Linked DNA regions of Homo sapiens. The protein of the gene in region 2 binds, or shares a complex with, the protein of the main gene of each other region. Each region holds a gene or a part of one and is shown on either strand. Other genes may lie near its edges. A codon is read from its position in the direction of its gene.

What was found. The genes of interacting proteins can lie anywhere in the genome.
Region 1: the proteins of PDCD4 (region 2) and EIF4A1 are in contact, whole or in part, in a crystal structure (PDB 2ZU6), measured with the Homo sapiens proteins. Residues at the interface, in NP_055271.2 of Homo sapiens: Pro170, Gln173, Glu174, Glu177, His178, Glu183, Glu186, Met187, Asp190, Leu209, Glu210, Lys212, Glu249, Leu250, Leu252, Asp253, Thr254, Pro255, Arg256, Gly320, Gln321, Gln322, Ser323, Val324, Leu327, Glu348, Lys352, Glu355, Val356, Pro357; in NP_001407.1 of Homo sapiens: Gln75 (codon at 7,230), Thr109 (codon at 7,332), Arg110 (codon at 7,335), Glu111 (codon at 7,338), Ile135, Gly137, Val140, Thr158, Gly160, Arg161, Asp164, Glu186, Leu188, Ser189, Arg190, Gly191, Phe192, Gln195, Ala214, Thr215, Met216, Pro217, Glu240, Leu241, Thr242, Asn280, Thr281, Arg282, Arg283, Thr329.

What each region holds. Positions count from the first base shown.
Region 1 is NC_000017.11:7,567,907-7,575,843, forward strand, and holds the start of EIF4A1 (eukaryotic initiation factor 4A-I), read left to right. Parts: upstream 1-4,918; 5' UTR 4,919-4,935; coding exon 4,936-4,958; intron 4,959-6,353; coding exon 6,354-6,402; intron 6,403-6,639; coding exon 6,640-6,772; intron 6,773-6,806; exon of another isoform or gene 6,807-6,941; intron 6,942-7,212; coding exon 7,213-7,352; intron 7,353-7,937. Other genes in the region: SENP3 (sentrin-specific protease 3), read left to right, coding at 2,450-2,587, 2,775-2,858, 2,977-3,027, 3,467-3,577. UniProt on the Homo sapiens protein: ATP-dependent RNA helicase which is a subunit of the eIF4F complex involved in cap recognition and is required for mRNA binding to ribosome.
Region 2 is NC_000010.11:110,874,927-110,881,945, forward strand, and holds part of PDCD4 (programmed cell death protein 4), read left to right. Parts: intron 1-1,039; 5' UTR 1,040-1,101; coding exon 1,102-1,144; intron 1,145-1,743; exon of another isoform or gene 1,744-1,817; coding exon of another isoform or gene 1,818-1,827; intron 1,828-6,306; coding exon 6,307-6,609; intron 6,610-7,019. UniProt on the Homo sapiens protein: Inhibits translation initiation and cap-dependent translation. May excert its function by hindering the interaction between EIF4A1 and EIF4G. Inhibits the helicase activity of EIF4A. Modulates the activation of JUN kinase.

The DNA of each region.
Region 1 (7,937 bases), on a different chromosome or scaffold from region 2:
GCAAGAATGGAAGCAGGAACAGAGCACAGTAGTCCAGGTGAGAAACTTGAACTGGAGTGCTAAAGGAAGAGAGAGAGAGTAGTTTTATGTAGGATAAATTTTACGAGTAAAACCAGTAGGACTGACAGGCTCTGTGATACTGAGAGATACATATTTGGTCTCCTGACCAGGCTCCTGGCATTCAACTTCTAAAATCCTTGGAATCTCCAGTGATGTGTGTTTTTGTGTGCTGATGAGTTGATTCATGGCTAGCCCCTCTAGGTGGCTTCATGATTAGAGGGTTGGAACTTTCAGCCTCACCCCCACCAACTTCCTGGGAGGGGAATGGGGCCAAAGGTTAAGGCAATCACTGAGGATCAGTGATTTAATCAGTCATGCCTAGTAGTGAAGCCTCTAAAAACCGGAAAGGGGCCGGGTGCGGCGGCTCACGCCTGTACTCCCGGCACTTTGGGAGGCTGAGGCAGATGGATCGCAAGGTCAAGAGATTGAGACCAGCCTGGCCGACCTGGCGAAACCCTGTCTCTACTAAAAATATGAAAATTAGCTGGGCGTGGTGGCGTGCGCCTGTAGTCCCCGGGAGGCTGAGGCAGGAGAATCGCTTGAACCCGGGAGGCAGAGGTTGCAGTGAGCCGAGATTGTGCCACTGCACTCCACCCTGGGTGACAGAGTGAAACTCTGTCTCAAAAAAGAAAAAAAAACCCGAGAGGAGGAGTTTGGAGACATTCTAGATAGCTGAAGGCATGGAGGCTCCCACAGGATGGTCTCCAGGCCTCTTCCCGGTACCTTTCCCTGTGCATCTTTTCATCTGTACTCTTTGTACTACCCTTTGTTAATAAACTGGTAAATGTGTTTCCATGAGTTCTGTGAGCTGCTCTAGCAAATTAATCAAATTCAAGGAGGGGGTCATGGGAACGCTGATCTAACCAGTTGGTGAGAAACACAGATAAAACAACCTGGGGCTTAGGACTGGCATCAGAATTGGGGGCAGCCTTGTGAGACTGAGCCCTAAACCTGTGACACATTATCTCCAGGTAGATAGTGTTGGAATTGAATTGGGGGATACCCAGCTGTGTCCACCGCAAAATTGCTTGCTTGGTTGTTGGTGGAGAGAAAGCCCCACAAACACTTCTTGGTGACCACAGGTTACAGAAGTATTTTGTGTTGTGAGAGTATAGTAGGAAAGAAGATTTGTTTTTTTGCCGGGCGCGGTGGCTCACGCCTGTAATCCCAGCCCTTTGGGAGGCTGAGGCGGGCGGATCACCAGGTCAGGAGATCAAGACCATCCTGGCTAACACAGTGAAACCCTGTCTCTACTAAAAATACAAAAAATTAGCCGGGCGAGGTGGCACGTGTCTGTAGTCCAAGCTACTTGGGAGGCTGAGGCAGGAGAATGGCATGAACCCAGGAGGTGGAGCTTGCAGTGAGGCAAGATCACGCCACTGCACTCCAGTCTGGGCAACAGAGCAAGACTCCGTCTCAAAAAAAAAAAAAAGATTTGTTTTTTCCTCCGCAGGTTGGATGTGGGAAATGAAGAAAAAGAAATGGAGGATGATGCCTAGGTTTTTGGCCTATGTAACGGGAAAAGTGGGAGAGGAACAGGTTGGGGGAGGAAAATGAAGAGTTCTTTTCTCTTCTGGTTTCCCTGCCCTCCCATTCAAAGGCCAGGAAATTTCTACAGCTAGGCAGGATGATTGGCTCCGGCATTCCTTAATTTCAGTCCTCAAAATCAAGAGCTTACACCCTCAGGGATCTTCTTGCAGTAGAGGGAAGGGTGGTGACGTACAGTGAAAAACATGTTGGCCTTCTTCATACTGAGTTTGAGTCCCACTTCTGCCATTTCTTTCTTTCATGACCTTGTGCAAGTCACGACTTTCCAAGCTGCAATTTCCTCATCTGTTAGGTTGAATGTTGAGAACTTCCCGGTAGGATTGTTATGAGCATTAACTGCGTGTTTACTTTGTGCTGTGTCTTGTTCTAAGTGTATTATGGATAGTCACTAGTTTAATCCTCATATCAAATGGATGAGGTGTAGGTACTACTATTTACACTCTCTGACAGATAAGGAAACTGAGGTATAGAAGGTTATTAAGTAGGTTGCCCACTGTCATAAGCCAGTAAATGGAGGAGCTGTATTTGAATTCTGGCAGGCTCCAGAATCCTGGGCCTGGGTTCTTAGCTGCTAAGTGCTTCTCCCTTTAAAGTGTGAAAAGCGCCTGCCCATCATGGGTTCTCCAGTGTTCGTTCTGATGTCTCCTCCATTGTCTGACCTTCCTCCCTTACCCCGAAGAACCGAAACATGCAGATCCTGAGCTTGCCCACAATCTAGGCCTTGGGTCTTCTGTTCTTTCACTTGGTTCCCTTACCTGTGTCTCTGTTCCTCTCTAGAACCTTCATGGCAAAAGGCAAGACTTCTGTTTGTTGTACCTGACCTGTGGCACTATCTCTTTAGGTGGACATCTTCAATAAGGAGCTACTGCTAATCCCCATCCACCTGGAGGTGCATTGGTCCCTCATCTCTGTTGATGTGAGGCGACGCACCATCACCTATTTTGACTCGCAGCGTACCCTAAACCGCCGCTGCCCTAAGGTTTGAGGGGGTAGGAGAGAGATGGGCAAAATGTGGGGCGGTGCAGTGGCAAGGCATTGCAGGAAGAAGGGTGGGCTTTGGGTCTTTGAGGGGCGACCTGGGCATGGTGTCTGCCAGCACTGTACCCACCATACTGTGTTCAATTGAGAAACTTAGGGCATCACTTTCTTTTCCCCCATCCACATAGCATATTGCCAAGTATCTACAGGCAGAGGCGGTAAAGAAAGACCGACTGGATTTCCACCAGGGCTGGAAAGGTTACTTCAAAATGGTGAGTTTCCTGAGGGAGGGGTATAGGGTGTTGGTGGGGACAGTGGTAGAAGGCAGAAATTGAAGTCCTACCCCTGGGAGTCTCCATGTGAAGGGCCTGCTTTCTTTCTCTTCTCTAGAATGTGGCCAGGCAGAATAATGACAGTGACTGTGGTGCTTTTGTGTTGCAGGTAAGCAGATGATGGGGCCACCTCCCCTAGCTCTGAAGTCAGTTGGGTTAAAGGGTCGGGAGGCTGTTATGCATCCCCTCATTTGGCTCATAGTCAGTTGTGGAGCAGGAAGTAATCTGTTTTAGAACACCAAAACACTGGCTTCACTGGTTCTCTTCTGGACTTCTCCATCCCACATTGGGACTGGGTCTCTAGTCTTGGGCCTCTGGCCTTCATAGAGCTCCCTGCTAACCTCCAACTCAGTGTATTTTCTCCATCTAAAACATTCTATCAAGTAAGAACACTAGCTTTAGAGTCAGGCTGTTTTTGAACCCCAGGCTGTGGGACCCTGGCTCCCTTTGGGGATGTTCTCTGAAGGATGGAGACACATCTCATATGAAATGTGTAGCACAGGTCCTGACACGGGGGGTTTCTCATGGCTTGCTTTGTTAACACCCAGTACTGCAAGCATCTGGCCCTGTCTCAGCCATTCAGCTTCACCCAGCAGGACATGCCCAAACTTCGTCGGCAGATCTACAAGGAGCTGTGTCACTGCAAACTCACTGTGTGAGCCTCGTACCCCAGACCCCAAGCCCATAAATGGGAAGGGAGACATGGGAGTCCCTTCCCAAGAAACTCCAGTTCCTTTCCTCTCTTGCCTCTTCCCACTCACTTCCCTTTGGTTTTTCATATTTAAATGTTTCAATTTCTGTATTTTTTTTTCTTTGAGAGAATACTTGTTGATTTCTGATGTGCAGGGGGTGGCTACAGAAAAGCCCCTTTCTTCCTCTGTTTGCAGGGGAGTGTGGCCCTGTGGCCTGGGTGGAGCAGTCATCCTCCCCCTTCCCCGTGCAGGGAGCAGGAAATCAGTGCTGGGGGTGGTGGGCGGACAATAGGATCACTGCCTGCCAGATCTTCAAACTTTTATATATATATATATATATATATATATATATATATATATATATATATATATATATATATATATATATATATAAAAATATATAAATGCCACGGTCCTGCTCTGGTCAATAAAGGATCCTTTGTTGATACGTAAGTGGTGGTCTTCCTTAAGGGGCTTCAAATTAGTGGATATGCTTAGCTCAGACCTTCCAGCCAGTCTCTTGAGACTAAAGGGTTCAGCTTTCCATCCCTGGCTCAGGCACTGCCAACACCTTGTCTTCACCCAAACAAATCCCCGAGATGGGAGCAGAGAGCAGGAAGGAGGGAAAGTAGATAAGCCTCAAGAATAAGGGCATCCGAGAGGGAAGCTGGGGAACTGGACACAAGGGACTGGGGAGGGGACCAACCAGGATTCATGATAGTACCCCAAAGCCCTTTACAGTTTTCTTCCATCCCTCCACCATCCAGCCAGGGGAATCCTCCCATCCCTACGATATCGCTGTTGATTCCTTCATCCCTGGCACACGTCCAGGCAGTGTCGAATCCATCTCTGCTACAGGGGAAAACAAATAACATTTGAGTCCAGTGGAGACCGGGAGCAGAAGTAAAGGGAAGTGATAACCCCCAGAGCCCGGAAGCCTCTGGAGGCTGAGACCTCGCCCCCCTTGCGTGATAGGGCCTACGGAGCCACATGACCAAGGCACTGTCGCCTCCGCACGTGTGAGAGTGCAGGGCCCCAAGATGGCTGCCAGGCCTCGAGGCCTGACTCTTCTATGTCACTTCCGTACCGGCGAGAAAGGCGGGCCCTCCAGCCAATGAGGCTGCGGGGCGGGCCTTCACCTTGATAGGCACTCGAGTTATCCAATGGTGCCTGCGGGCCGGAGCGACTAGGAACTAACGTCATGCCGAGTTGCTGAGCGCCGGCAGGCGGGGCCGGGGCGGCCAAACCAATGCGATGGCCGGGGCGGAGTCGGGCGCTCTATAAGTTGTCGATAGGCGGGCACTCCGCCCTAGTTTCTAAGGATCATGTCTGCGAGCCAGGATTCCCGGTAAGAAAGGCATTTGCAAGAGATTGTGGCTGCTTATTTTGCCGCCCCCTTCCGACGGGCCCGCCGGGGGTAGCTGAGAGGCCCACCAGGGTTGCGGGAGAAACCGAACCGGGTGGGGGGAGGGTCCGACTTGGAGGGGCGAGGGGGAAGACCCACGGCCGACGCGGCCACCAGGTCGAGGCGGAGGGTAGGGACAGCCCGGCTAGGGTCAGGCGTGCGAGGTCTGTTACGAGGCCTCGACCCGAGGCGGTGCCATGCGCGAAGCCCCGGCGCTGAGTGGCGAGACGGGGTCGCGACCTGGCGTGGGAAAGAAAGGTGGAGGCGGCCGCCACTATGTGTGGCCCAGAGCCGGCAGGTCCGGTTGCCTCCCTGTGCCGGGGGAGGGACGGCGCGCGGGGTTCCGGAGCATTCTGACGGTACCACTCGCGAGAGGCGGGGGTGCCTGGTCCTTAGATCCAGTCACTTCGTCGCGGCTAAAACACGGGTCGGGGAGAAGAAACCGGCCGTTCAGTGTGCTGGTTTTCTTGACGGCCAGGACTGAGCCTAACCCCGAGGAGCGGCCGCGTGAGGCACCAGGAGCCCACCCGGCGCCGGGCGGGCGGGTCCATTTTGCCGCACAAGCCGGGCTATTGGCAAACTGCGGATGGGCAGGTCCACCTTCCTTCGGGGGTGAGCGGCCTGAGGTATGGGAGGGCGACGCTACTTCGCGACGGGGGCGGGCGGGATGTGGATTGTTCATGGAGGGGTGGGAGACGCCGCCGGGTGGTCGAGGGAGCGAGCACATGGTGGCCTGAGGCGTTCCCCTCCCCCAGTCTGCTTCGCTTCTAAGTGTTGTGCAATCTCCCCCTTTGCTAGCTCGGCTTGGGCTCATTGTGCGCGAGGCCGCCACCGCCCGCGGCCTCCCACATCCGGGCAACGCGAGGGGGGGGCTTCGGCTGGAGGGAGTGGGGGAGGGCGCGGGCGGGATGACGTGGGGGGAAGGGGATGTCCTACCCTCCGATCTGGGAGGTGAAGGGCGGGACTTCCAGCGCGCTGGTGCTGCGGTGGGAGGTGCACGCGCTTGGGCTTTAAGCGGCTGGGTCGGGCCCACGTGGACCCGGCGGCAAGCACCACCTCTGGGCACCGTGAGCGCGGCGGCACGCCTGCCGGCCTGTCTTCAGAAAGGGTCACCCCCTTATGTCGGGGGTGGCCTGGCCTGAGCCGCTGCCTGCATGGGGCAAATGCCTCAGTTTTATAGAAACTCCTCCTTTGGGTATTTTTTGGGAGCTGGTGGGAGTTGGATCTGGGACAGCAGATTGATGGCATCATGCAGGCCACTCCTGACAGAGCCCGGCTGTCAGGATTTCTGAGTGCTTCGGTCGGGCAGGGGACAAAACTTATGCTTTAAACCAACAGATCCAGAGACAATGGCCCCGATGGGATGGAGCCCGAAGGCGTCATCGAGGTGAGACTGGAGAAATGGAATTCTGTCCTCCCCCATTACAACTTTCAGCCGTATAGAGTTAGAGTGGCCTCTTGATTGATTTCCCAGATCATCTAGAAGCAGCTGGTTTCCCTAAAGGGAGGAGGGTTGTAAGCTCTGAGGCTTTTGTTAGTAGGCACCAGATTCTGTTTGCTCGGAGACTACAGCTCAGCTCCACCTTTTCCATGACTCAAGCTTTAATTTCTTTGCATCCCCTAGAGTAACTGGAATGAGATTGTTGACAGCTTTGATGACATGAACCTCTCGGAGTCCCTTCTCCGTGGCATCTACGCGTATGGTTTTGAGAAGCCCTCTGCCATCCAGCAGCGAGCCATTCTACCTTGTATCAAGGGTGAGACCTCTCAGTCCCAGAAGACATTGTGGACTGTCCCTGACCTGGGTAGAGTGGCATCTGGTTGGTGATGCCCATCTCATATCAGCCAGGGACAAAGCAACTCCTTGTTCATCCCAGCTTGGCTTTTGATCCGTGCCCATGCCTGGTTCATGCCTTGGACACATAGGTTTCCTTTAAAGAGGTGGTATTGTAGCCAGCTTATATTTGCATCTACAGCCATGTTTCTAGTCCAGCTTGGTGTGCAATACTAGATGAGTTAATAACTGGTCCTTGTTTCTGATCTGGTTCCCATTGTGTAACTGTGTTGATTGGGAAGGTAGTTTGTGAGCCATGAAATGCTTGGTTCATTGGTTGCTTATTGACCTCATTAACCTAGGACTTGAATATCCCAAAGGGTATGCTCTTTACCACATTCAACTCCTAATTTATTTGTTTAGGTTATGATGTGATTGCTCAAGCCCAATCTGGGACTGGGAAAACGGCCACATTTGCCATATCGATTCTGCAGCAGATTGAATTAGATCTAAAAGCCACCCAGGCCTTGGTCCTAGCACCCACTCGAGAATTGGCTCAGCAGGTAAGAGTGGCTTCTATTCCCTCCTTCAGGGCTGATTTAGGGATGATGAGTATAATCCAAGGACCAGAGAAGTCTTCTCTGATCACCACCTTGGGAGGAAGACATGGGTGCCCTAACACTCTCGAGACCTGCTGGGTTAATTAAAAGCTATTTCTTACCCAAACGTAACCATTGCTTCCTCCACCCATTTCCTGAGTCAAATGGGAAAGCTGTTGGGTGAAGCCTGGCTGGCTGGGCAAGTTTGACTGTGTTCTGAATAAGCACCTTCACTATGGGCTAAGAGATCCCTTGGTGTGGGGGTGATCTTACAGTAGTCAGAGCAGATGGACAGTCCTTTTCACCCTTGCTTAATAGCCAGAGCTGTTTCATGCCTGGGGCACACACAATTCTAATGCTGGACTTTTTCCTGGGTCATGCTGCAACACTGATGTCAGAGCATGTTTTTAAATGTTCTGTGGCAGGGGCAGTGATTATTCTGGGTGTGGATAATGTAAGAAGTTACAGCAGAGCTCCATTCTAAGGCACTTGGCTCTCAGTTTTCTCAGAGTGAACATGCCTCGTAGCTTGGGTCCTATGGCAGGAGTG
Region 2 (7,019 bases):
AGGCATTTTCACTAATTTGTGCATTTTATATCTCTGAAGAGCACACTGCTAGCAACCTGATTGTAAATGACCAGAAGGACTTATATCCAACCTATGTGACTTAAACATACACTTAAGTACTCTAAACCACTATTTAAAAAATACTTCTAGAGAGATTCTGAAATCTTAATTTGGTTGCACTTTCTGGTAATATATTTTTTGAAAACTATTTTGATATTTCTTTCATATAACATTATTGGATCTGTATCACTAAGTTAATTGTCTAAAAGGTAACTGATTTCATCAAACCTTCCAGTATTAATAATTTTTAAGCCATTTTGAAACTGAGGCCTAAAATACTGAAATGCTTATGTCGTTGTACTTACTCCTTTCTGAAATGATCAGATTTTTAAAAAATGGATTTCTCATATAAATAATATTATCAAAAAAGGATTTCTCATATAAATAATATTATCAAAAAAGCTGATTTTAAAAGTTTCTCCCAAAGTCTTATTCTAGTAATTATAGAGACCTAGGTAATGAGTGGCAGATATATCTGCCTTTCAGATATGCCGTAATGTGAAAAATAACACAGTCATGTGATATTCTTTATTAACTAAAACTGTGTTGTTTTTATTTTGGAGTAGTTCTCATAATTCATTGGTAGGGAACTATCCAGTATTTATATTCCTATGTATGTATATCAGATTAATTTTGAGGCTTGGTATTCCTAAAAGATTTGGATGTGTGTATTTCTTTAACTTGACGTAAACATGTATCACAAACATATCTTTTAATTCCAATTAAAGGGGTGCTTTGGCACATGCTGAAATCTGGGATTTTTTTTTTTGACTTTGATAAATTTATCAAAAAGATTGGAACCAAATGTTAATTAGGGTAAGTTGTCTTTGAAAGTAAAGTGAACTGTTTTATTTAATGGAATTGTGTGTTTTTTGTTGTTGTCGTTTGTTTTTACAGTGTGCTTAAGTAAGTTTAATTCAGCTTAATTACATCAGTTTAAAAGATCTTGAAGCTTTCTTTTTTTCTTTTAAAAAAACAGATTCTGAAGGAAGATTTCCATTAGGTAATTTGTTTAATCAGTGCAAGCGAAATTAAGGGAAAATGGATGTAGAAAATGAGCAGATACTGAATGTAAACCCTGCAGGTAAGTAAGGATATCCTTTTTTCTTTTTTTCTTCGTTTTGAGACAGGATCTTGCTCTGTCACCCAGGCTGGAGTGCAGTGGTGTGATCATGGCTCACTGCAGTTTTGACTTTCCTGGGCTTAAGAGATCCTCCCCTATCTCAGCCTCCTCAGCAGCTGGGACAACAGGTGTGTGCCACCACACCAGGCTAATTTTTTATTTTTTGTAGAGATAGGATTTCACTATGTTGCCTAGGCTGAAATATCTTGAAGCTTGACTATGTTGTGAGGAAGCTTCAGACCATTCCATATTTTATAAAAACATGATAGAAAAACTATCTTTAAATACTCTTTTATTCATGCTGTAAGAAAACAGGCTATATTATTTTTAAAGTCAAGTTTGTGATTTTTATTTTCATGGAAATTCATTACATGTCCTATTTTTCTGCCTATCCTTTCACATTCCACATATTCCTATTCTCTGTTATATAGTACAGAATAGAGAAGAATAGTGAGCCTGCTTATTTTCACATGGGCTAGTTAGTGATTTCTGTAATATAAACTTACTGGTATCTTTGGTATCTTTCCTAACAAATAATTTTTATATTCTAAATTACCTAGGGTATTTTCCCTAATTCTCCATGGTGCTTCAATAGCATGTTATTATCATAAAAATGAACAGTTTTGTGGAATAGATGACCAAATGTGAGTAACTCAAGATAATTTAAAATGTATTTATAGTTTTAAAAATAATCTCCCAAAAAGTTAATTAGAATTGTGTAATATCTGAATAGTGAGAACAGTTCATATTGGTATACTTTGGATAATTCTTTGTCTTATAATTTTATTAATATTGAAAGCTATTTTCTGTCATTTTAAGTGTATTTCGTAACTAAATACTACATCTTTCTTTCCTCAGTGACTTAACTCACTATTGTTTACAATGTACATAGTTTTCTTTGATCTGAACAAACATGTTGAATTTGAAGCTTCTTTACCATTGTTTATTTACAGATCTTTTTAAAGTATGGTAAAAAATTGAAAAAAATTTATGTAATTAATGATCATTTCTGTGCTGCTGTATACAATAGCTGTATGAGTATGCTTTAGGGTTATAAATGGATAATATGTACCTACTTAATTGAGATGGGGATGGTAATACAGTTTAGAATATATTTTACATATAGGTAATTGCTTCTTTTCTGCACTGTCCAGTATGGTGACCACTAGCTACATGTGGTTATTACTCCTGGGCTCAAGTGATCCTCCCTCTTCAGCCTCCTCAGTAGCTGGATTACAGGCGTGTGCACCACTGTGCTTAGCCACATGTGTTTGTTGAGTACTTGAAATGTGGCTACTCTGAGTTGAGATGAAGGTCAACTATCTCAATAATTTGTTATATTGCTTGCATGTTGAGATGATATGGTTATATTAGATTAAATAAAATATATTTAAATTAATTTCACCTGTTTTTACTTTTTAATGTGGCTACTGGAAAATTTAAAATTTCTTATATGGCTTGCATTCTATTTCTATTAGAAATAGAAACACAGCTTTAAAATGTGTACTTTTTGTTTCCTAACTACAATAAGACCTAGTTCTAACCCTGTTCTTGGTGCTTGTGTCCAGCACTGCTTTAAAATAAAAGACTTGTTCTTCAATATTTGAATAGGCCTAAGATAGACCCTCTTTGTAGTAAATTCTTCACATAGCAAATAGTCCAAGTCACACTCTTACTCTTTTACTTGGAGGAAGTAGGTTATTCTGACCTTCAGTTTTTTCATGTATAAAATTGGGATATAAATACCCTCTGTATAGATTTATAATTAGGATTTAGTGAGATATTGTATATGTGTGTTAAGTCTGTGAAGCACATACTAGGTATGTAATACATGAAAGTGTGGTAATGTTATTCTAATTATGCCACTCATTGGACACCAGTAATTGAAAATGTGATTTTCTGGTGCTGTGGTCATATACAATTGGAGTGGTTACTATTGAGATATCAGAATTCAGAAAGAGGGAATTAGTACACAGTAGGAAACAATTTTGAAGTCAATCACATTCTGTACTCAGCTTATCATTTTAATTTTGGTTTTCTTAAAGTCAGCTCAATAGGGGTTATGGAACTCCAACAGTTAGGTGAGTATGAGTAACAAAATATAAAGCAATTAATACAAACATGGGTTAAAAATGATAAGGTCAAATATATAAATTATACTGAGAGAATGTTTACTGCTGCAGAGACACAAACATACTTGAAAGGATGTTAAAATTGTTGAAGAAAAGAAAACTCGATTATGGGAAATAGATGTATTTAAATTGAATACTCCAAGGGACAGTTTAAGACATTTTATTATAGTTCTGACTCCTGTGTCTTCTGGACCAGTTTTGTGGTTCACCTTAATGGCACAATGATGAAAGCACTATGTTACAGGTAGATGTTTAATGTTTTTCTCAACCATCCACTCTTACACGAAAATGTCATCTAATTTATGTGATCCTGATCTTTCTGTCCCCTTCCACTTAATCATTTTTGTTTATCTCTCTTTACATTCACGCCCTTGTTCGTCTCTTTAGCTGTCAATACTCTGCTGTATTCTAGTTTTGTATTTTCTGTAGTTATATGGGATTAAAAATGTGGGTTTGAATTCTAGCCATAATCCTTTCTAGATATGTAACTTCTTGTGAAACACATTCCTTCTGTAAAATGAGGATAAACAGTTTCTTTCTAGAGCTCTTGAAGCTTATAGACCACATATGTAAAGTGCCTTAGCTAATAGGTACCAGGTAGTGTGGAATCTAATAGGTACCAGGTAGTGTGGAACCTGGTATCTAATAGATGACAATAGTAATGGTAATGATGAAAGAAACAGTACTACGACTACTTCCACTAAGACTATAATTACTACTGATGGTTATGATGATGTCCCAAACACACCATCCTAACACCGGCTTCTTACCAGTTTGAAAACTTTTAAGGCATTGTTTGACTTCTCTTTAATCCTAGATACATTCTGCTTAAAAGTCCTTCATTATTTTCTTTAAAAGTGTAACATTATTATTTATCCCACAGTTACTACCCTTGCTCTTTACCAGTTAGCTTGTGACTGAATTACTGAAGCATTTTCTTAGCGGTTTCCTACTTTATACTTTCTCTTTTTGTAATATACTCAGTATTCTTCTGCCAAATGAATCCCTCCCATCTCTTCCCTATGATATCTAACTTAAGCTCTGACAATTTGAGTGTGGGAGTAGTTAGCAGTGATTCTGGTGAGGTAAGCAGGGGCAAGATCATAAAGGACCTTAAGTTACAAGGTAAAGAGTTTACATTTTGGCTGGGTGCGGTGGCTCACGCCTGTAATCCCAGCACTTTGGGAGGCCGACGTAGGTGGATCACGAGGTCAGGAGATCAAGACCATCCTGGCTAACACGGTGACCCCATCTGTACTAAAAACACAAAAAAATTAGCCAGGCGTAGTGGCAGGCATCTGTAGTCCCAGCTGGGGCAGGAGAATGGCGTGAACCCGGGAGGCAGAGCTTGCAGTGAGCTGAGATTGCACCACTGCACTCCAGCCTGGGTGACAGAGCGACACGCTGTCTCAAAAAAAAAAAAAAAAAAGTTTACATTTTTTGTGACATAATGGGACTACTTTTAAAGGATCTTCAGTGAGGGCATGCTTGAGAAAATCAGTCTTCATTCAGTATAGTTTGAAGACTGGAGGCAGGGAGACTACTTATGAGACTAGTGAAATAATTTGGCTCTAATTGATGATTTTGTTTAAAACAAAACATTCCTACCTTCCTAAGTATGTCAAGAATTGTAAAGATTTAAACACATGTATGCTTTTTATAGGTTGGTGAAAATTTTTGGTTTCAACATGTCTTAAAACATATTAAAGCCCATGCACATAGACCTGACATGTTATAATTATCTTTAGGCATATAGAAAATGATTTGAGTGATTCAGCTCTGATTTGCGTTAACAATAATGAACAAAACTGTGGCCCAGTGGTAGCTAATTCAGTAGCCTTTCTGACTTAAAGAGCTTTCAGGGCAAAGCCAAGTGCCTCCACTTGATCTCCATGGAATTTGAGTATGAAGGACACTCTGCTAGGTGATGGGGATACAAAGAAGGACATACAGTCTAGTTGTGGTTTCTCCTTTGAAGCTTATGACTTAGTTGGAAGAAAAAGACTGCTATATAAAAAGAAAGTGATTTCCATGACGTGTTGAATGAATAGTATGTGAGCAATTAGTGTTCCTGTACCTAGAGTTGTAAGGGAAGTTTTAATGCAGGGAGTAAGACTTGGGCTATATCCTAAAGGATTTTGATAACTGAAAATAACAGTGAGGGCGACATTCTACTGGGAACTCCAGTATGTTGATCTCTTTCAGAAGAATCAATTTTATATAGGCTGGAAGATTTACAGGATGGTAAGTAATAGGAGAAAAGTTTAGGGAGATGAATTAGGACTTTGAGATGTTGGCTTTTCTTGAAAGCAAACTTTGTCTTGAGGCAGTAAAGCATCAGCAGTTCAGCTCAACAATCATATGCGATTATTTGCTAAATGCCTTTCATTCTCTTTTGGATTACTAATAGTTCTTAAGTGTTTATACCTAGTTATGGGACGTTTGGCAAATCATTTAAACATTCTCAGCCTTAGTTTCCTTATCTGTCTTCAATGTTATAATAATTAACTGCCAAACTTGTGCATAAATAAATGATAGAGTGTCTAGCACAGTGCCTAATAGTAGGCATTCTATAAATATTAGTTTATCTCTCTTCTCAAGATGCTTTGTCTTTTCTTAATATCTCCAATTAGCTCATAAAAGTCTAAGGGTTTTATATTTGGTGTTGCTGTTAGCATAGATTTTATGATCTAAACGTGAAATAACATGCTTCTTTTGGTAAAAACAAACAAATTTGGTTTGTTTTTGGTAAGAAACAAACATGCTTTGTTAAAATTCAGTGCCTTGGTTTACTTTCCTTGATAATGTGAAAAGTAATCTTATTTAGTTGTTTATTAGATTGAAGTAGATGAAATTCCCAATATGTGACTGTAATTTACCTACAAAAATGGTAATGTCATGTGATTCAACCTAATCTAACTTACCACTATATCTATAAAACAGTAGATACTTAAAATACTTAGAATTTTTTTCTTCATTTTTCTCTTTAAGATCCTGATAACTTAAGTGACTCTCTCTTTTCCGGTGATGAAGAAAATGCTGGGACTGAGGAAATAAAGAATGAAATAAATGGAAATTGGATTTCAGCATCCTCCATTAACGAAGCTAGAATTAATGCCAAGGCAAAAAGGCGACTAAGGAAAAACTCATCCCGGGACTCTGGCAGAGGCGATTCGGTCAGCGACAGTGGGAGTGACGCCCTTAGAAGTGGATTAACTGTGCCAACCAGTCCAAAGGGAAGGTTGCTGGATAGGCGATCCAGATCTGGGAAAGGAAGGGGACTACCAAAGAAAGGTTGGTATATATCATGTCCAACAAATGGAAGATAAACAAGTGGAAAAAAATTGTCTGGTTCTTGTACTACACTTTCCTTGTTCTAGGAATGAGAGAGATTCAAAAAGTGAAAATGTAAGGCTTTACAGTTTGTATATATTTTTACTTAGTAATAATGTGAGAACCATCTCACTTTTTCTTTAGGTTGATGTTTTTTCTTGTTTGAGTAGATTTAATTTTCTTGAGCAGAATGTTAACGATTTATTTCCAGCAAAATATACACTGATGTTTTTCACTGTTACGAGTTTTACGTATATTCTCTAAGTTTGAAAGGAGTCAGAAATCCATCATACTTATTTAATATAATTATGTCCATTACTACTACTAATAAATATACATTTGATTGATAACGTCTAGATCTGAATTTTAAT